Linked DNA regions of Homo sapiens: region 1 is linked to region 2. Evidence: fine-mapped expression QTL. A gene starts in region 2. The other region holds a variant in brackets. All regions are shown on one strand. Distances are between the middles of the regions.

Region 1 (11,468 bases), 530 kb before region 2:
AGAGAGAGACACATGTACAGGATATAGATATATATTAGTATACAATATTTATAATATGTAAGTATATATATATCATATATATCCTTTATATATCTCTCCTGTATGTATGCACACCTGTGTAAATAAGTGTATATATGTACACACATATGTATATATACATATATACACACATATGTATATATACGTATATACGCACATATGTATATATACGTATATACGCACATATGTATATATACGTATATACGCACATATGTATATATACGTATATACGCACATATGTATATATACGTATATATACGCACATATGTATATATACGTATATATACGCACATATGTATATATACGTATATATACACACTTATATATGTGTATATGTACATATATACACACACTTATATATAAGTGTATGTGTGTATATACATACACACTCAGTATATATAAGTGTGTATGTATATCCTGTGTGTTTGTATATATATCCCATATATGTGTGTGTTTATATGTACACACACATTGTATATATAAGAATATACAGTATATATGCTGTATATATAAGTATATTTATCCTGTGTGTATATATATATATATCCCATGTGTGTGTGTGTATATATATATATCCTTTAAATATATATATTTAAATATCCTATAAATATATATGTATATATATTTAAATATCCTATAAATATATATGTATATATATTTATATATCCTTTTCCATTTTTTTTTAATGTAATCATATCAGCAAGCACCAAAGAAAATCAATAAGATTCTGGGGTGCAAAGAAATAACTCACTACCTTAAACTGTACATTCTCTTGAGATTTGACATGAGAATTGTCCAAAAACATCTAATTTTTTATATTAGCAAACTGTATCTGACAAAGGTCTAATATCCAGAATCTATAAGGAACTTAAACAATTCAACAAGCAAAAAAAACAAATTACCCCATTAAAATATGGGCAAAGGACATGAACACACACTTCTCAAAAGGAGACATACGAGCGTCCAACAAATATATGAAAAAATGCTCAACATCACGAATCATTAGAGAAATCCAAATCAAAACCTCAATGAGATACCATCTCACACTAGTCAGAATGGCCATTATAAAGACTCAAAAAATAACTGAGGGCAACTTTGTGGAGAAAAGGGAATGCTTATACACAGTTGGTGAGAATGTAAATTTGTTTACCTGCTGTGGAAACCAGTTTGGATATTTCTCAAAGAATTTAAAACAGAACTATCATTTGACACAGCTGTCCCATTACTAGGTATATACACAAAGGAAAATATTCCACCAAAAAGACATATGCACTTGTATGTTCATCGCAACACTACTCACAACACTACTCACACTACTCACAACACTACTCACATAGCAAAAACATGGAATCAGCCTATGTGGCCATCAATGATGGATATGATAAACAAATGTGGTACTTATGCACCATGGAATACTATGCAGCCATAAAAAAAACAGTGAAATCATGTTCTTTACAGCAACACAAATTCAGCCAGAAGCTATTATCCTAAGCAAATTAACACAGGAACAGAAAAGCAAATACCACATGTTCTCACTTATAAGTGGAAGCTAAACACTGAGTACATATGGACATAAAGGGAACAACACATTCTGGGCACTACTGGATGGGGAAGAAGGAGAATCGGGTATGGGCTGAAAAACCACCCATTGGGTACTGTGCTCACTACCTGGGTAACAAGATCATTTGTACCCCAAACCTCAGCAACACACAATTTACCCGTGTAACAAACCTGCACATGTACCCCCTGAACCTAAAATAAAAGTTGAAAATATTTATAATAATAAAGAAAGCATGATTTCAAAGAAAAAAACAACATAAAACAAAACATCTAATTTTTCGTAAGCGATTATTTTAAAATTATCTATATAACATCTTGCCAAACTTTGAAAATAATGTTTGTGATGCTATTATAAATATGTTTAAGGAGCTAGTATTTTTAAACATGAATTAATTGAAAAAATCACCTGCTGCTCACCATTTAATCAGACAATGAGGGGAGCAGCATGCTTCATTGCACTTATTAGCAGAGGCAAAACCCTGCTCAGTGGAAATGAGATGGCAAGTAAAATAATCATGGCAAAGCCATCTGGAAGGGTTTGCATTAATAAGGTTAGCAATATAAAGGAAGCCACATTTGAAGGAAGCCATCTAGACAACAGAACGGACACTTTCAGGTCCGTTGTAAGAAGGCACTGCAGAAATCTAAATAGTTCTATTAATGTCTTCCTAATATTTGACTTTATGAAACTTGGTTATTCGCTGTGTTATGTTACCATGACCATGTCATATATTAATTCAATTTCTCTCCATTTCTCTGTCCTGATCATTTCACAAATTATAGGGCTGGAAGAGAAGTTTATTTTCCGCCATTCAGCTTGACTCTGTTAGCATTACCAACTATGATGTGACATTAAGGGTCATTCCAAAGTGATACATCCATCATCTGACAGCTTTAGATATATAAAGTTTACAAAATGTACAGTGTTTATGGTCATTTAACATGAAATAAGAATAATTGATAGTCCTTTGTGAATTGTTTTTTGATGAGCTTCCATTTCATCTTTCCTCAAATGATTCAGAATTTCCCCCCACTTCCCACTTAGCCCTTTCTTGGCTTTATTTTTTCATCTCTAAAGAACTTGAAGATTAATATATCTTGAGACTTAAGTGATATAGGAAGAAGGGGGAGATCAGGGATATATATGAAGCTTTGGTTGAATATCAAGCACTGTGCTAGGTGCTATATTATGTCATCTAATTTCTACAACTTCTGAGGCTTGTATTACTGTCCCTATTGTATAGATCAACAAGCGGAGGCTCAAAAATATTAGGTAATGTATCCAAGTCTTGCAACTAGCAGGTGGCAGAAACAGACTTCCCCTTCAAACTTAGGTCTTCCCACTTCACATCTAGTGCTTTTCCCACTAATCACAAACAGGTCATCAGAATTTCCTCACTCTGGCCTTCACTTTGCTAATCTAGCATTTACCACCCAGGAAATGTCCAGGATTTGTCTCACTATAAAATGGTCATCACTTTTGAGAAGTGTCTGTTCATATCCTTTGTCCACTGTTTGATGGGGTTGTTTGATATTTTCTTGTAAATTTGTTTAAGTTCTTTGTAGATTCTGGATATTAGCCCTTTGTCAGATGGGTAGATTGCAAAATTTTTCTCCCATTCTGTAGGTTTCCTGATCACTCTGATGGTAGTTTCTTTTGCTGTGCAGAAGCTCTTTAGTTTAATTAAATCCCATTTGTGTACTTTGGCTTTTGTTGCCATTGCTTTTGGTGTTTTAGACATGAAGTCCTTGCCCATGCCTATGTCCTGAATGGTATTGCCTAGGTTTTCTTCTAAGGTTTTTATGGTTTTGGGTCTAACATTTAAGTCTTTAATCCATCTTGAATTAATTTTTTATAAGGTGTAAGGAAGGGATCCATTTCTGCTTTCTACATACGGCTAGCCAATTTTCCCAGCACCATTTATTAAATAGGGAATCCTTTCCCCATTTCTTGTTTTTGTCAGGTTTGTCAAAGATCAGATGGTGTTCTCAAAAGAAGACATTTATGCAGCCAACAGACACATAAAAAATGCTCATCATCTCTGGCCATCAGAGAAATGCAAATCAAAACCACAATGACATACCATCTCACACCAGTTAGAATGGTGATCATTTAAAAGTCAGGAAACAACAGGTGCTGGAGAGGATGTGGAGAAGTAAGAACACTTTTACACTGTTGGTGGGAGTGTAAACTAGTCCAGCCATTGTGGAAGACAGTGTGGCAATTCCTCAAGGATCTAGAACTAGAAATACCATTTGACCCAGCTATCCCATTACTGGGTATATACCCAAAGGATTATAAATCATGCTACTATAAAGACACACACACACGTATGTTTATTGTGGCACTATTCACAACAGCAAAGACTTGGAACCAACCCAAATGTCCATCAATGACAGACTGGATTAAGAAAATGTGGCACATATACACCATGGAATACTATGCAGCCATAAAAAAGGATGAGTTCGTGTCCTTTGTAGGGACATGGATGAAGCTGGAAACCATCATTCTAAGCAAACTATCGCAAGGACAGAAAACCAAACACCGCATATTCTCACTCATAGGTGGGAACTGAACAATGAGAACACATGGACACAGGGTGGGGAACATCACACACTGGGGCCTGTCGTGGAATGGGGGGAAGGGGGAAAGGATAGCATTAGGAGAAATACCTAATGTAAATGATGAGTTAATGGGTGCAGCACACCAACATGGCACATGTATACATATGTAACAAACCTGCACGTTGTGCACATGTACCCTAGAACTTAAAATATAATAATAGTAATAGTAATAATAAATGGTCACACTTACTTGATGACTTTATTCTTGAGAGTTTCCATTGAGCTGACTAAAGGAGGTTTAAATTTAAAAAATGCTCCCAGAAAAAAAAGGCATATGGAGAATTACTACACATAAAAATTCTCTGGTTAAGAGCTGTGATTATGAAAGAATTGTAGTAGCACCACTAAACTAAGTCTAGAACCTAGAAGAATTCAATACCTCATTGAACATCTCATCTCCCTGTTCAAACTGATTTGTATGCAGAGTGAGTAAACATTATTTAATTTAATCCTTACTATGGACAGATGAGGGAAGTACCATGATTATCTACATTTATAAGATGATCTCAAAAACCAAGGCTTAAAATAATTAAGTGCAGCCAGGCGCGGTGGCTCACGCCTGTAATCCCAGCACTTTGGGAGACTGAGGCGGACGGACTGCCTGAGCTCAGGAGTTCCAGGTCAGCCTGGGCAAAACAGTGAAACCCTGTCTCTACTTTAAAAAATACAATAAAATTAGCCGGGCGTAGCGGCGTGCGCCTGTAGTCCCAGCTACTTGGGAGGCTGAGGGAAGAGAATCGCTTCAACCTGGAAGCAGAGTTTGCAGTGAGCTGAGATTTCGCCACTACATTCCAGTCTGGGCGACAGAGCGAGACTCCATCTCCAAAAAAAATTAATTAATTAATGTAATTAACTAAGTGCCTTGTCCAAGGTTGCACAGCTAAATCTCACATGTGCTGAACTATAACATTATAATCTTTCTGTTCAAGTTCTAGTCCTTTTCCCGGAATTCTT[T/C]GAACATTTCTTTTTCCATCAGCTCATTTTCTTTTTCTTTTTTTTTTTTTTAATTTTTTATTTTTAATAAACATGGAATATTTATTAAAAGTTAAATTAAAATGTTAGGCTTCATTTTTTTGTTTTAATTGTCAACAGCTCTACTAATATTGTGATTGACAGTATTGTCTCAGTCCTTTCCTGGGCATGTGCACAGTCCTGAGTATGTGTGTAGCCTCCTAGATTTCTTGGTTATGTTTAGCTTTGCAAAGTTCCTTATGATCATGTCAGTCCTCAGTATTTTCTTTTGTATTTTGGTCAAGTTCTTGTTCCTCCCAACAAATAAAGCCACATTAGGCAGCTGTGATGTTAAACAATTGCTGTTGATTATTTTTGGCAAAATCCTGAGAAGAGGGCTCTTCACAAACAGCGAGAGCTCCAACTAAGGTCAGATAAAGACAAAACCTGAGAATAGTGCTTTCTAACAAGCTGCCAGACACGTAAAGTAGTGACAAATCTCTGCAGACAGGACTTCTAGGGAGTTCCTACCTTATTCTGCCTCACTTAGTGGCTGCCAAACTGCTGGTTTTAATAGCTATTGCATTTGGAAGACTAGATTTCTTTTTTTAAAAAAAATTATTTAAATATCTTTTGGGGTACAAATGATTTTTCGTTACATGGATGAATTATATAGTGGTCAGTTCTGAGATTTTAGTGCACTGGAGAGGAGTTAAGGATAAAAAAACTACACATTACATTACTACATTACTACACAATGTATGCTACTCGGGTGTCCATCAGCTCATTTTCACACTGTCGTTCCCTGGCAGTCCCTCACCACACTTTGCTTAATGGCAATAAACCCTTTTACCAACTCCATTTACTTAATTTCTGTCTCCTGTTCTTAGATCTTCCCTTGGACTGCTCAGTGATTCCACAGAATGTTTTCTCCGGCAGTACTGTCTAATTGAAGAGCTCCTTAAATCCTTCCCTTCCATAAACATTTTCCAGGCACATGATAGGAAAAGAAACATTTTACCTATTTAATGTAATGTACACATTTTTATTCATAAACATTCTCATACAAATAGCCAGACAAAACGACAGTTAGGTCTTTGTATATTAATCTAAGACTCTTTCATATTTGAACACTTTATTAACTTTGTTACTTTTGAGTTAAAATCTTCTCAAAGCTGGTAATTGTGTCTGATAAGGCAAATTTGGTAGAAAGCCCATCACAGGGCCCCTCATATGTGGATAATTGATGAATAAATATGCCAAATGGCAAACTACAGCACATAAATCTGAGAGGTGGAGTCCTAATGACATTGATTTATTCATTAAACAAGCATCATTTGGCACTTATTATGTTTAAGAGCTTGTGCTAAGTGTTCATGTGCTCAAAGTGGAGAATTAATTAATATCACCCGATTTATTTGCTCTAGTTCTTCTCTAAGTTGAGTGTGATTGCAGATATCAGGTACCTTCTCTATTCCTCAGTTTCTTATTTTATAATGAGGGATTTGGTGATTCCCAAGGTCCCTTGCAGTTCTGTAGGCTCATGATTCAATGTGGTTATGTCATTTCCTAAATTGAGAAGTCATATCTCTTAACTTTCCAAATTAGATATGGCTTAATTAACATAGTTACATAACTGAAAGAAAATTTTAAAAATGATACATGAATGACAATTACTATCTTGGATGTACTATGGGTTTCTCTCAGCAATATTTTAAGTATAGATGAATCATAAACATGAGGATTATATTTCTCCTAAAATAAACATGGCTAAAATCTCAGATGATATTTTCTTGGCAAAATGCACTTCAGATTTTATTGAACTAAATACATTTGAAAATCAGATGCTACACTAAGAATACGATATTCATTCAATATTCATACCTTTGAAATGAAGTAAATTAAGACAATTTGTTGGGTATTTCAGGCTGAAAAGCTTACTGCTTTTATTCCCGTGATATTAAAATAAAAGTAAATTGGGGACTTAGTCCATTTTAAGGCCCAAACCACAAAGGCCTTACTACTCCTCACATCTATTGCATGGGTTTCTTTGCCCACAGTTAAACAAATTCCTCTATACCTTTTGCCTCTCTACTGACCATTTCTTTCAGACTGGCTTCACTGAACACTGACTCTTTCCATAAATTCTCAAGGTCCTCTGAAGAGTAGGTGTTCTTTCTCCCACACATCATATAGTTCAGAGTTTCCAAATTATATTCAGCTCATGACTCCTTATCTTCATATAAATGAATGAATGAATGAATGAATGAATAAATAAATAAATAAATAAATAAATAAATAAGTTTCCTTGAAGCTTCTTGCCAGTTGGCTAAACATTCTTTTACCTATTCTTGACACTATCTCCTATCATCCTCCTGGTCACTTCTCCCAATTCAGTATAACTTTTGGCACCTGCTTCAAATCATTTATTTCCTGCTACTCCAAGTAATATCAACTATTATTGTGTTCCTCTAACCCTGAACACAATAATATTGAACTTGTTATCTTCTCCTTTCCTTTACTTATTATCCTTCTCATGTATCTACCCAGAAATCTTCCACTTCTGAAATTAAAAATTCCTTCAGTGTACTGTGGAACCACAGCTTTCTACTCTTCCCACAAATTTCTCCAATTTCCTTAGACTCCAAATCACAGATCTTTCTACTTTCTACTCTATTAATCACTGCTTTCTTTTTTCTCCATTACATCTATGATACATTGCTTCAAAACTTCTTCCTTGACACTGTCCTTGGAAACACCTCTATCCTGAATGAAGTCAACTAGCCTGTGAATACTGTTTAGGAAATCACACAGCTGGTCATTGAACCAATGGTTAAGCTCTCTCTTCCATTCTTGAACTGTTAACAAAAAGAGAAGCAATTGAGTCTCATGGTAATATCAACCACTCGTTCTTCAAGTCATTCTTCCCTTATAACTCAACTCTCAATCTGTTTTCTCAACAGATAAAATATGTCAGAGAGGCACTTTGTTAACTTTTATACAAAGGGTGGAAAATGAGACCAGATGATCCTTTTAAACTTCATATCCTTAGAGTAGAAACTCTCTCTCTTCTATAGAGAGTTGAAGAGTAGCATTTATTAATTATCACTCATCAATTTCCTCAGGAACCCATAAACCCTAAGAGGTGCAGGGTAAAACTCTTTTGTTCTCCTTTGTAAACTTAGAACCCAGCACAATGACTAACACATAGTAGAAATTCAAACAATATTCAATGAAAGCATGAATCAATGCCTGGGTGATGATCAGGGAATTTCTGACAAATATGTTTGTGAGTTGAAACTTGTAGCTAATTGTTTCAGTTGCATGCTTGTTATATGATTTTATTTCAGCAAACTATCTCAAACCATTTTTATGAGTCTTTGGTTTTAATATAACTCAAAATACACTCTGTCAAGTACGTTTCTCCATAGACTTTAAACATAGGTTCTTTCAGGTGAAATTTAATCCTAATGTTTACAATTCATCCACACTTAAATCATCAAAATACCACTGTAGCAATCTCAGTTGGGTATTCAACTTGTGATTCCCTAATTAGATAATTGTTTGTATATTTAAAACAAAATTATTACTTGCCCTTAATTATTTAGATAATTGTTTAAATTATATACTTTTTGTCTTGTGTGTTGAAAAGCCATAATCACACTAAAATACATCCTAATTTTAGGATACTTCAGTCTTTATATTGGGGAATACAGTTTTTGATATAACAAATGAGAATTTTAAATGTGGTCTTTTCAATAGAGGCCTATTTAATGATTAATGTATAATCCATATAAGTCATTCTTAATATAGAAAAATATTTTGATCAGTTTAGCAGTTTTCACTATTTCTGGTCATTTTAAAATAATTCAGTTGTCAGTCTCAAGAAAAAATGATTCTCATATTGCAAACAGAAAATCAAGTTGGAACACTGAAAGCAGCTTAGATCTGAAATACATGGAAAATTACAGTAAGAAATTAAAGTTTCCTGGAATTTTGTTTTTCTTGTCTTTTTACAGGACTTTTCCATGTCACTCAAACCTTGTGTCTTTCCTTTCCCCTTCTCACTCTCTCTGCTCTAAACATACTGGCCTTGACAAGTCAAACTGAAATTTTTTCTATGAGACCTATGCCTCTTCGATATCCTGAGAAGTATTCCTCCAGATAGTCACATGGCTTCTTTCAATTAAGTTTCTATTCCAAAGTCGTCTCTTAAGAGAGTCTTCCCTAATCACCCTAGACAAAGTAGTCATTTCCTCCCACTTGACCATTCTCTTCTTACTGTGCTTTATTCTTATCTTAGTATGTGTTGCTAACTTCACTACCTGGATTTGTAGAATACATTTTTTTTTTTTTTTGAGATGGAGTTTCTTGTTGTTCAGGCTGGGGTGCAATGGCGCAATCTCGGCTCACCGCAACCTCCGCTTCCCAGGTTCAAGTGATTCTCCTGCCTCAGCCTCCCAAATAGCGGGGATTATAGGCATGTGCCACCATGCCCGGCTAATTTTGTATTTTTAGTAGAGACAGGGTTTCTCCATGTTGGTCAGGCTGGTCTCGAACTCCCAACCTCAGGTGATCTGCCCACCTTGCCCTCCCAAACTGCTGGGATTACAGATGTTAGCTACCACACCCGGCCTAGAATACACTTATTAATTTAGTTGTATACTGTCAGCTTCTCCTGGCAGGACATGGGCTGTGGCTTCTCAACTACTCTATCACCCAGTATTTGTGGAATGAATGAATGAATGAATGAATCTTCAATGTTAGTATTTAAATAGTCCTTTTGCCATTTCACCTTACTGAGTTTTACAAAGGCCAAGGGGAAAACAAAGTGTGCAAACATTTCTGAGAAAAAAGGTAAGATAATGCTATAGCATTTACTATGGTTCAAATGTGTAGCTAATGTTCAATTCTGTTTCATGTGTGTTCTCAAAATACTTAAAAGCTTGAGATAAGGCACAGCAAAAGAAGTACTTTTTCACTGATAGAGAAACAAAGAGAGTCAATATTTGGACCCTTCTCTGTGTAAAGAATGGAATGATCTAGTCTGGATAAATACTAAATATAAATAAAAGTTGGCTTCTTGCTAATTACATTCCACAATATAAATTTTGTTTTCACCAAACAGTATTTTAACATTTTAGAATACAAAATACTGTTTCACCAAACAGTATTTTAACATTTTAGAACATTTTAGAATATAACATTTTAGAATACTGTTTCACCAAACAGTATTTTAATACTTTAGAATTATAACATTTTAGAATAAAAAATGTTATTCACTTCTAAATGATGCTCTTATTTTTCCAAAATTCTAGGAAAATGATGCTAGAAATTGGCTGGGAGAGGATTAAGAGGATACAGAGGCTATTTTAACCATTTTACTTAAAATTGTATCCAATTGTTATCCAATTTTTGATTACCATCTGAATACTTAGAATAACAATATGCATCTATCTTTAACATTTACTAGGTTCTATAAATTTTATGTACCAAGTGCCTTCTATATCTACATAACTATATCTGTATCTGTCTGTCTATCTATCTATCTATCTATCTATCATCTATATGTACGTATGTACATATTTCTGATTTGATCCTAACATACAAAAAGAAAACTATAGCCCAGAGGCCAGGCATTGTGGCTTTTGCCTGTAATCTCAACACTTTGGGAGGCTGAGGCCGGCAGATGGCTTGAGGCTAGGAGTTTGAGACCAGCCTGGCCAACATGGCGAAACCCCATCTCCACCAAAAATACAAAATTTAGCACTGGTCAGTGGTGGCACACACCTGTAGTCCCAGCTACTCAGGAGGCTGAAGAACAAGAAGTGCTTGAGTCTGGGAGGCGGAAGTTGCGGTGAGCTGAGATGGCCTGCTGATTACCCTGACTTATGCTGAGACTGGCTTCTTGACCATTCTTCAGTAATGAACAATTTACCAAGAGACTATTTCTTTAGGCATCAATGCTTCATCTCAACTCACAAAACAAGGTACTAATGTGCTCAGTGGCAATGTTGTCCAATCTCTTAACTCTTCAAAAACTAATTTTTAAATGAAAGATGTACATTTTATTAGTGTATATAACTAACCTAAAAATTATTAAATTATATTTCTGACTAAAGACTGGGAGATTCTTTTGAAAACCAGAAAGAGAAATTTATTTTAAACAGGCCAATTATCCTTCCTTCTCACAGGTTGAGATAGAGCAGGAAGCACAGGGAGTAGGGTGGGGCGTTGCTGGAGCCAGCTCTATAGAGTGAGATCCTCAATCTCATGGTCAGACCACAGTCTAC
Region 2 (11,216 bases):
GATTAAGTCATTACATGCCATGCTCCAGAAATTCCAGGAGACCACAATAAAGTTATGATTTGTCTATCCACCTTTCAGTAATCCAGTCTGAAATGTGGCTTACAACCATTCCAAAAAATGAAAGTAATCAAAGAACTCCACTTAACATATAAATCAATCATAAGTGGTTTCAAGACCAAGACAGATAGTAGGGGTTAACAATAGCCAATCATGACTATTTTGAAGGGGGAGTCAGGGAGACAAATCTTAATATGCTACATGGAGAGAAAAATAAGAGTTATTAATCAGCTTTTCAAAATGTTGGCATGTGTCTCCCCTCTAAAAGATATTCATTGTCAGTATTGTATTGTGTTTGTGCCTAATTAATTTTTTAAAATTATTGCAACCAGGCCCCATTAGTGACTATCAAATGCATTTTTATAATTTTTCAAAATAAGGGGAAGAAAATATGGTAGGTAGGTAGTCTTATTGTTCGTGATGATCTCCCCCATTTGAAGTTTTGTCCAAAAGTAGAGACGGTCAAAATACTATTTTCTCAATCGTCTGGCTATATTTTGAAATAAAATATACCGTTAAATGATATATTTGCTCTCCATTCCAAACTGGATGCAATTGATTTTAACTGACTAAATTATCTAATCTCTGCCAAGAATTTTATTTCATTAAGAAAATGATATTATGGAGCATGTGAGATCATAGAGCAGACTAAACATAATGCCAAAGGAGTTCGGAGAATGCTCCACAGTGAAGGTTTGATTATTCGCAGATGGAATATGGAAAAAAAAAAAAAAGAATCAGGTCCCAGGGGTAAGCCTAACCAATCCTGGTACCACTGCCACCTACTTGTAGCACAAAGCCAAGAAAATAACTAATCTTCCAAACTACAACACCTTTTATAAAAAATACCAATTACTTTTCTTCTTGGAAAATAATATTTAACTGACACTATCCAAAACAAAGGGGAAAAAGGGAAATGTTGGTATCACATAGGCCCTAACATGTCAACTGTCACTGCTGACATGATTTGGCCAGTAGTCAAGCATTCACTGAGGAACTAATTGAAATCAATCTTTTTGGGGAAAGCCAATTGTTTGGTATGCACAACAATTGGTGTAGGATCAATCAGTGGACATGAGATCAATTAAAACCAGCTTAAGTTTGTGAAGAGGGACAATTCACACAACTTGAGTTAGATCTCTATTCATTTCAATACTCTCACAATGCAATCCTTAAGCTTCCCTGCAAAGTAGAAAAGCTACTATCACCCTACACTGTCTGGCCAGCCCTTTAAGTAGTTCCACTTTTAATTAAAAACACAGTACACCCTTTGTTGGTACAGATAGTGTGGTCACTTTTAAGGACGACAGTTATTTTAGCCAGAAACTTGGGATTTGTAAAGGGATATCTGTTGAGAAGAAGAAAAAAAGTTTGATTTTTTTTTTACACCCTTACCAATTTACACGTTCTTGAAAGCATTTGAATTTTATTAAATCGAAAGGTTGATTTGGCATAAGTTACTATTGCACAATTTAGAGTTAGACTGTCAGTGCTTTGGGATGTGGATGGTAATCGTTACAAGAGATTTTGCTAAAAGTAAGCTTTGAAATAAATAGGTTCTGCTTCAGATACCTAAGAAGGCATAGGCAGATTCTTAGAGATGGCACTGCAGAGAAGGCATGCAGTATCCCTTCTGGCCGCAGGAGTGCTGTAATGTCCTTTTCCACCAAACAGCATCTCTGCATTAAGTTCTACTAAAACAATATGCTTGGTTCTTCCCCACTCAACCACAATGGGACAGGCAGGGTGGATCAGAAAGCCATCACTGAATTAGCAAGTCATCTAATAAGGATCTGGCAAAGGATTTTAGACATTTCTATATTTTGCAGACTTCAAGCACTTTAGTTTTTCTAAGTAGACTGCAGCTTTGACTTATAAAAAGAGGAAAAGCCTCTCCAAACACTTTTGACCATAATGTAATCAAAAATTGCTGGCTCTGCCGAATACTCGAAAGAAAGTACTGGGATTGAGAAAGGAATCAGGAGGGGAGGAGAGAGGAGATAAAAAGGGACTTTTTCAAGACAAGTATCAATATCAAACTCTCATGGCCTTTGGGAAGAAATTTCTCTCTAGTATTTTTAAGTAAAATAATTTCTGAAAATAAACAATTTCCAAAAGTCAGAAATCGGGGGAGAGGGAGGGAGAGAAGTTGGAGAAGGTTTATTCTTACAAGCCGCAGATACAGAGACAATTGAAGCGCAGGGACTACAGAAGTCGCACACCATCAGTTATTTGGAGCTCTGCGCTCAGGTGGGCCAATCTCTAGCTCTGCCCCTAGGTGAGAACAGCTTAACAATGTCCTAAAAAGCCATCAAAAAAATAAGGTTCGGAAAGTCCTCCTCAAAATCTGGATGCAGGAGCGGAGATTACACACAATGAGTTATAAACAAATCACATCACAGATCGAGTGAGATGTTTACATCTTGGAGAAAAAGTCAACATTCATGAACCCGGCGACAAATTCTAATTGCGCAAAAGTCCAAAGTGCCGAATGAAATAGACAGCTCTCACCAGGTCCCTGGGAAGGGGCTGCTGCGCGCCCTTCCTGCGCGGGTAATTCGATGTGCGTGTGGTGAGTGGTTTATGTTTAAATCCACCCAGAAAATTGAATCGTGTCTAGCCGCCCTTCTTCTAAAATGCAGTTGGATTAGTTGCATCTCCAGCGGACTCCGAGACAGAAATACGCACTAAATCTGCAGGAAAGCGAGTTCCCCGAAACCTTTCTGGAGGCTTCCACCCGCCTTCTCCGCTACGCACAAGTGATGGAGAGGGAGGGAGCAGTTAAAAAGCCGCAAGTGAATTTCATTGAGAACAGAAGCCTCCACCGGTGTGGCTGCTTTTGCAAAGCAAATGGAGAGAGCGAAGTGGGGCCTGTTTTAAAAACAAACCTCTGGAGGCGAGGACTCCCCAGAAAACCAGCGCGGGAATTGCTGCTTAATTCAGAAAGTTCCCATCTCGTCGCAGTTTCCAGAAAAAAGAGATCTATGTTGGCCTTTTTCTGGAAAGGGAGGTCCTCCCCCTCGACTTGGTACCCCTCCCAAGCTCCGGAATACAGACACACGCTTGGGTACACCCACACACCACACACACACTATGCTAGGTCAAGTCCGAAGAGATCTGAGGCCGGGTTTGGGGCGCACGTGGATGGGGAAGATAAAACAAATGAGCTACAGGGAAGATGGTTAGGAGGACAGAGAGAAGAACAACGACGACAAAAAAAAAATGCATGTCAGATAAGAAATACGTCCTAAAGAGACAAGTTTAGATGAGGAGGTGGGGCGGCGAACATGAGTGCGGACCGCACGACTTAGCCCTGAGCGCCCGATTGGCGCCCGGCTCGCCGAGCTCCCAGCGCGTCTCGCTCCGGCTCCCCGCGCCTCCAGGGTACAGAAAACAGAGTGTTTTGTAGAGCTCCAGGGTCCTAAAGGTGGGGACTGGGGACCCGCAAAAGCTGGGGTGGAGAGCACAGCCCTGACCATCTGAGCCCCCGGAGCCAGGGCGTGAGTGAGCGCCTCCACACGCCACCCCTGAAGCCCACCACGCACCTTTGGCAGAGAGGGACCCACCTCGCTTACTGCGTCTCCATCGGTTGCCTTGGCAGTGGCTGTAATCCATGCAGTTCAGAATGATGAGGGCAAAGGAGAAAAGGCGAAACTGCATCTGGGCGGTCGGGCGGGGGAGAGACGCCTCTCAAAGTCTAGGAACTGGAGGGTTCGCCCAAAGAGCCGGCGCCGGCCGCGCTGCTGGGGAGGACTCAGAGGGAGACTCGCCACTCACCCCCGGGCCGCACCGGTCAGTTCAGCGCGATCAGCATCTCTCCGCCACGAACCTGAGAGACAAGAAGCGAAAACAGGGTGTGTGGGGGATGGAGAGAGCCCCGGGGAGGCAGCTGCGCCTTCGCACGTCCCAATTTAAAGAAGAGAGGGAAGGAGGAAGCGAACCCACTGCCTAGCACGAGCCGCGGAGCGGCTTAATCCAGAGCGGGCAGCTGCGGACGAGTTGGAGAGGAAGGTGATTATAATCAGTGAATTAGCAACCTCTGCCGAGCCCTAAGCTCCGACCCAGCGGCATAATGCGTTGTGCCGGCGCTCCGGGGAAAGGAAAGAACTCTAAAGGCACTGAGAGCGCAGGGCTAAAAGAACGCTCTTAGGCCATTTGGAGTCCACGGCGGTGTACCCAAGCGCCGCAGCTGCGGCTGCCTTGGTGTGGGTTGCCTACCGTGCGCACGTCTCGGGCGGCGCGGCCTCCCTAGGCGCGGTGCTCCATCCCGGGCTCGGGAAGCGAGCCGCTTGGTTAGCACGTGGGCTGGGGAAAAGTTTGCCGAGACCGGCTGGGAGCGCCTGGCAGCTCTGGAATTCCAGCGGCCGCCGCGGGGTTGGCGACGCCAGGCAGGAGCGCGGAGCGGCGGGTGCAGCCACTGGGATGCTCCGTCCCCGCCCGCGAGCGCGGTCCCCAGGCAAGGGGTGCGCCCGCTCACACTCTCTGCCTCCCTAACCAATTGTGTCGCTTCCTGCGCTTTCTCCACGGTCACTTCACAGCTAAGATTTCTTTCTTTCCGAGCTGTAGAAGGCAGAACGCTCTCGGGAGGACGAAGTGATCCGAAGGGATGTGGCAAGCGCACTTTCCGATGGAGATGCAGACCGGCTGAGGCTTGGGATGCTTCTATAAGTAGGTGGTGCTGTGGTCCAAGGCATCTAAGTCTAGGCTGCCTCGGAGTTCCTGGGTCCTAAAGCCAGAAACGTCCCGGTTTCCCTGAGGTCCTAAAGAACGTTGACAGCCAACAGCGCGCCTAACTTGGAGCGAATCCTCTTCGGGCTTTCCAGAGTGCGGGGGATAGATAAAGAGTAGCTGGGGAGACGCCCCCTGACCTTGCTGGGTCCCAGAACCCGGCTGCTCACCCCCAAGGGGTCCTCTCCAGCCCTCTAGGGTCAGTTCCAACCTCAGCGCCAACCTTTCTGCAGGGAGATCTGACTGAAGGACTGATGACTCCCTTTAAACTTTTGCAATATGCCACAACTCTGCCACTTTTTAATTTACATCTTGTCTGTGTTTTGCAGGAAGGTATGTTAGCCGGCTGAAATTATTCATAAAACGCGCCCCCACTTTGAGGAGTGAAATGGGTATTCCCAACAGCTTTTGTTCATCCTCAGAACTGTTATTTACTTTGTTTCTTCTCCAATAAAACAAAAACCTGTGATCCGTTGCCTGAAGTGCTGAAGAAGTTGGGGCCTTGATTCTTTAAAAATAATTTTAAAAAGTTCACTTCCCACTAAAGTATTTTTCATTCTTAATCCTCCTCTCATTTCCAAAGTCTCCTGAATTAAACTTTTAGGTGCTTTGGGTTTGGGGAAAATATTCTGTTTAACAAAGTGTTACATTAAATAGACTTGATGCCATCCAATTTCATTCTGGTGAAATCTGTCCTGCATTCACTACTGTAGGAAAAAATGTATTTATTCCTTAAGCAAAAGATAAGAATTTATGCCACTAACCGTGGCAGTATGAATGTCTATAGATATGCCCGCAGTTACCATATTATTATGATAGCATTTTATACTATTTAAATTCCCTTTTCTATTCCTTCAGTTTCAGAAGATGTTCAGAAATTTGATGACTTAAAAGACAATCATATAAAAAGAATATTGCAATACTCATATTTATTAACTATTCCATTATTGCCTATTCATAACTATTTTACAGACTCACTATTACATAGTGGTATTTATGTGCTAAGAATTTCAGCAGTATGCCTTTGATGCATGCCTGAGAACACCCAAGTAAATCTGAGTTGAGGTCATTGGTCCCATTTCATAGATAAGAAAATCCATCACTGAGACTGGCCCACAGGGCACAAATAGAGTTCACAAAACACATTGCAGAAACAGTGGATCTGTTTCTTGACTTTTGAGCCTTTGATTTTTATCACAGAATTTGGAAACATTTCAGTGTAGGGAGTGGCCCCAGTGTTTGGCATAACTTGATATTTCTTGATCATCTTGATATGATGCTGAATATCTCTTCAGCACCATAAATACTACTTCTTTCCAAATATAGTCATATATGCACACAACAAATGAATTATACTTATAAAGGAGTTAAATCTATGGGAGAAAGGAAGTCTTCCCTAAGTAAGCCCCCCTGCCTCCTTGCAAAGCTTTGAGATCCATTCAAGATCAGTGGTCATCAGTGTCTTTTAAAATATTTAAAGGCAAAAGTAAACACAAGACCAAGCAGAGGTAGCGCTACCATTAATCACCTGCGTCACTTTGGGCAATTTTCTTGGTCTCAGTTTCCTTGGCAGTATTTTTAGGAAGTCTGTCCAAGGTCTCTTTCACTTCTACATGTTCTGGTTTACAATCAATTTTCTATTTGTACTAGGAAGTTTGCTATGGTATCTAACCAGTGTAAGGGCAAACTCATCAGTGATGGGTTCTTTGTGTAGAAAGAAGAGGGTTAGCCACTGCCTTCCTTAGTTAAATTTACAGACCACTTCACCCTTATCCCTTCAAAGACAACTTTCCATAATTTTAATTTTAATCTTTTGTGTTGTACAGTTGGTGCATTTTTAGCCAGAGATGCTTTTCAGTTTAGTGAACCCCCAGATTCAGTTCATGAGGAAGAATTTTGACAGTACCACTTCTGTAGAAAATTGGTTAATGTGTTTAGTAAGAAAAGAATAGGCTCTGGAAGAAAGGAAAATTCTTAATTCCTTCTTTTGCTCCCTCCTGGTCTATCTCTGCCTCTTAAAAGACACCAGTGAACCTTAAAACTCTGTCAGACTTAGTTCTTGGGGTACTTGGAGTCTCACACTTAATCACTTTGGGGCTAATTTGTTGATAATGCAGAATTTTTTTTTTTTACATTCACTGAATATTTTTCCTGACTTCAAAATCCCAGGAATGTTCTTGCTACTAAAAAATACAACCCTAATGGATCCTAGACTATCATTAACTTTAATCCCATATCTCTGCTTCCTTTCATTTCTAAACTCAGAATGTGGTGTTGTTGAGGCTCACAGCTCACAGTTTCTCCATCTTGGAGACTCAATGGACTTTTTCTTCAAACTGAGTTTATATAGTGGTTTCATTAAACTGGCTTTGTAAATAGACTTGTGCCTGGGTTCTGTTTACAGAGAAGTATACTGATATACTGAGGAGGTTGACTCTATACCACTCATTGGTGATAGGGAAAGTTAACTGAGGGCAGAAGTGGGGGATGATGTTATAGAGAGGAGATAACTTCTGTATTTTATTTTTTGACTTGTAATTCGTTCATACAGCTCAAAATTCAATCCTTACAAAACACCATAACAGGGCAAAGTCTCTCCTACCTCCTTCTCTCAGGCATCCAGTTCTCCTTAGAGTCAATCAGTTATTCTTTTACAAGTGTTCACGGTTTTTGGTATACTTCAGAAGATGTTTGGTGCTTATCAAACAAGTAACTTGATAATCTTTTTGCTTATCAAGCAAGGAAAGAAGGAAGAATGTATTATATATATGTACATGCACATATATAGGCATACATATAATATGTGCGTATACATATATATAATACATTCTTCCTTCTCTGTTTTATAATATATTCTTCCTCTCTTTTATGCAATTAGTAGAATACTGTATTCACTAATCTGTACCTTGAGGGGTTGTTTTTTTTTTTTTTTTTTGAGATGGAGTCTTGTTCTGTCGCCAGGCTGGAGTGCAGTGGTACGATCCGGGCTCACTGGAACCTCCGACTCCCTGGTTCAAGCGATTCTCCTGCCTCAGCCTCACGAATAGCTGGGATTACAGGCACATGCGACCACACCCAGCTACTTTTTGTATTTTTAGCAGAGACAGGGTTTCACCGTTTTAGCCAGGATGGTCTTGATCTCCGGACTTCGTGATCCGCCTGCCTCGGCCTCCCAAAGTGCTGAGATTACAGGCGTGAGCCACCATGGCATCAGTTCATAGAGAACTGTCCTGTTCTTTTTATATAGTCACATATTATTTCATCGTATGGCTGTATTTAGCCAGCCTCCCTATCAATATACATTTAGATTGTTTTCATACTTTTTGTATCTTAAGCAATGCTTCAATTAACTTTTTCATGTGTCATTTTACCTTTCCATTATAAATTCTTAAAAGTAGAAAAGTTGAATCAAACAGTTGGATATATGTGTGTGTGTTCTGCAAATTGCCTTTCACAAAGGTTCTTTCATATTACACCGTGTGAAAATGCCTATCTCTAGATGCTGACCAACACTTTTTGACTTTTGACACTTGTAGGCAAAAAGTCGTATCTCAGTAAAGTGTTAATTTGTATTTATTTTCTTTTAAATGAAATTTTGTGTGTCTTTAGTATGCTCCATCCATTTGTATTTTCTTTTCCATGAACTCTCTGAAGATATAATTTGCCTATTTTTCTATTGTGTTCTTGGTCATTTGTTTTTGTTTGTAGAATTTGCATGTATTGATATAATGTCTTTTGTGATTTGAGTTGCATATTTTTCCAAGTTTCTTATTTACCTTTTGACTTTGTTTTTGATGTATATTAATATGTAAAAAAATTTTAAATACTTTTACATAGTGCAGTTTGCCAGTCTTATCTTTTATAGCTTCTCTGTGTCATACTTGAAAAAGCTCTTCCTCGCTATTTATGACAAACCCACAACCAATACCATACTGAATGGGCAAAAGCTGGAAGCATTGCCTTTGAAAACCAGCACAAGACAAGGATGCCCTCTCTCACCACTCCTATTCAACATAGTATTGGAAATTCTGGCCAGGGCAATCAGGCAATAAATAAAGGGTATTCAAATAGGAAGAGAGGAAGTCAAATTGTCTCTCTTTCCAGATGACATGATCCTATATTTAGAAAATCCCATTGTCTCAGCCCAAAATCTCCTTAAGCTGATAAGCAACTTCAGCAAAATCTCAGGATACAAAATAAATGTGCAAAAATCACAAGCATTCCTATACAACAATAGGCAAACAGAGAGCCAAATCATGAGAGAACTCCCATTCACAATTGCTACAAAGAGAATAAAATACCTAGGAATACAACTTACAAGGGATGTGAAGGACCTCTTCAAGGAGAACTACAAATCACTGCTCAAGGAAATCAGAGAGGACACAAAGAAATGGAAAAAACATTCCATGCTGATGGATAGGAAGAATCAATACCATGATAATGGCCATAGTGCCCAAAGTAATTTATAGATTCAATGCTATCCCCATCAAGCTACCATTGACTTTCTTCACAGAATTAGAAAAAACTACTTTAAATTTCATATGGAACCAAAAAAAAGAGCCCATATGGCCAAGACAATCCTAAGCAAAAAGAACAAAGTTGGAGGCATCATGCTACCTGACTTCAGACTATACTACAAGGCTACAGTAACCAAAACAGCATGGTACTGGTATCAAAACAGATATATAGACCAATGGAACAGAACAGAGGCCTCAGAAATAAGGCCACACATCTACAACCATATGATCTTTGACAAACCTGACAAAAGCAGTGGGGAAAGGATTCCCTATTTAATAAATTGTGTTGGAAAACTGGGTAGCCATAGGCAGAAAACTGAAACTGGACCCCTTTCTTACACCTTATACAAAAATTAACTCAACATGAATTAAAGACTTAAACGTAAGACCTAAAACTATAAAAACCCTAGAAGAAAACCTAGGCAATACCATTCAGGACATAGGCATGGGCAAAGAATTCATGACTAAAACACCAAAAGCAATGGCAACAAAAGCCAAAATTGACAAATGGGATCCAATTAAACTAAAAAGCTTCTGCACAACAAAAGAAACTATCATCAAAGTGAACAGGCAACCTACAGAATGAGAGAAAATTTTTGCAATCTATCCATCTAACTAAGGGCAAATATCCAGAATCTACAAAGAACTTAAACAAATTTACAAGAAAAAAACAACCCCATCAAAAAGTGGGCAAAGGATATGAACAGACCCTTCTCAAGAGAAGACATTTATGCAGCCAACAAACATATGAAAAAAAGCTCATTATCACTGGTCATTAGAGAAATGCAAATCAAAACCACAATGAGATACCGTCTCATGCCAGTTAGAATGGTGTTCATTAAAAAGACAGGAAACAACAGATGCTGGAGAGGATGTGGAGAAATAAGAACACTTTTACGTTGTTGGTGTGAGTGTAAATTAGTTCAACCATTGTGGAAGACAATGTGGCAATTCCTCAAGGGTCTAGAACCAGAAATACCATTTGACTCACCAATCTCATTACTGGGTATATACCCAAAGAATTATAAATCATTCCACTATACAGACACATGCACACATATGTTTATTGTGGCACTATTCACAACAGGAAAGACTTGGAACCAACCCAAATGCCCATCAGTGATAGACTGGATAAAGAAAATGTGGCACATATACACCATGGAATACTATGCAGCCATAAAAAAGGAAGAGTTCATGTCCTTTGCAGGGACATGGTTGAAGCTGGAAACCATCATTCTCAGCAAACTAACACAAGAACAGAAAACCAAAACCAAACACTGCATGTTCTCACTTATAAGTGGGAGTTGAACAATGAGAAGGCATGGACACAGGGAGGGGAACATCACACACCAGGGCCTGTCAGGGGGTTGGGGGCTAGGGGAGAGATAGCATTAGGAGAAATACCTAATGTAGATGATGGGTTGATGGGTGCAGCAAACCACCATGGCACATGTATACCTATGTAACAAACCTACACATTCTGCATATGTATCCCAGAACTTAAAGTATACTTTTTAAAAAGAGAAAGAAAAAGCTCTTCCTTGTGCCATTATTTTTAGATTTTCATTTAGGAATTTTCCAATATATTTTTTCAATGTTAACACCCATAGGATGCTAGTGATTTTATGACTGTACAGTGTGGGCTACAGTAGAATAGATTTAAAGTTTTCTGAATCTTTCATAAGCATTTATGCTTATAGATTTGGTTGACTTTGGCACTGATTCTTGTTTTCATTAGCTAATTGATTTAGAGTTATCTTTTATGTTATCTGTTATTCATTCTCAGATTTAAAATTTCTCACAATCTTTTTAATCATTGTTGATATTGATTGTATGCACTCTTCCAGTGTAGAATTTATCCTTTAATTGCTTTGGAACAAATTATAGCATTTTTGCCATTGTGCTACTATTGAT

What was found. PIP is the estimated chance that this variant, and not a neighbour inherited with it, causes the effect.
Region 1: its variant is the best candidate, but not a certain one, in a credible set for the expression of RSPO2 in coronary artery (GTEx, PIP 0.74).

What each region holds. Positions count from the first base shown.
Region 1 is chr8:107,551,186-107,562,653 of GRCh38, forward strand. No RefSeq gene overlaps it. Among named protein-coding and RNA genes, the nearest start is that of ANGPT1, 59 kb to the left of the region's middle. The variant T/C (reference allele first, on the strand shown) is at 5,179.
Region 2 is chr8:108,078,922-108,090,137 of GRCh38, forward strand. It overlaps RSPO2 (R-spondin 2), which reads right to left and starts at 4,699. Exons shown (of 6, transcript NM_178565.5): 1 at 4,276-4,699; 2 at 3,624-3,886. The coding sequence starts at 3,717. RefSeq lists silencers at 2,720-3,014, 3,555-3,730 and an enhancer at 2,892-3,838.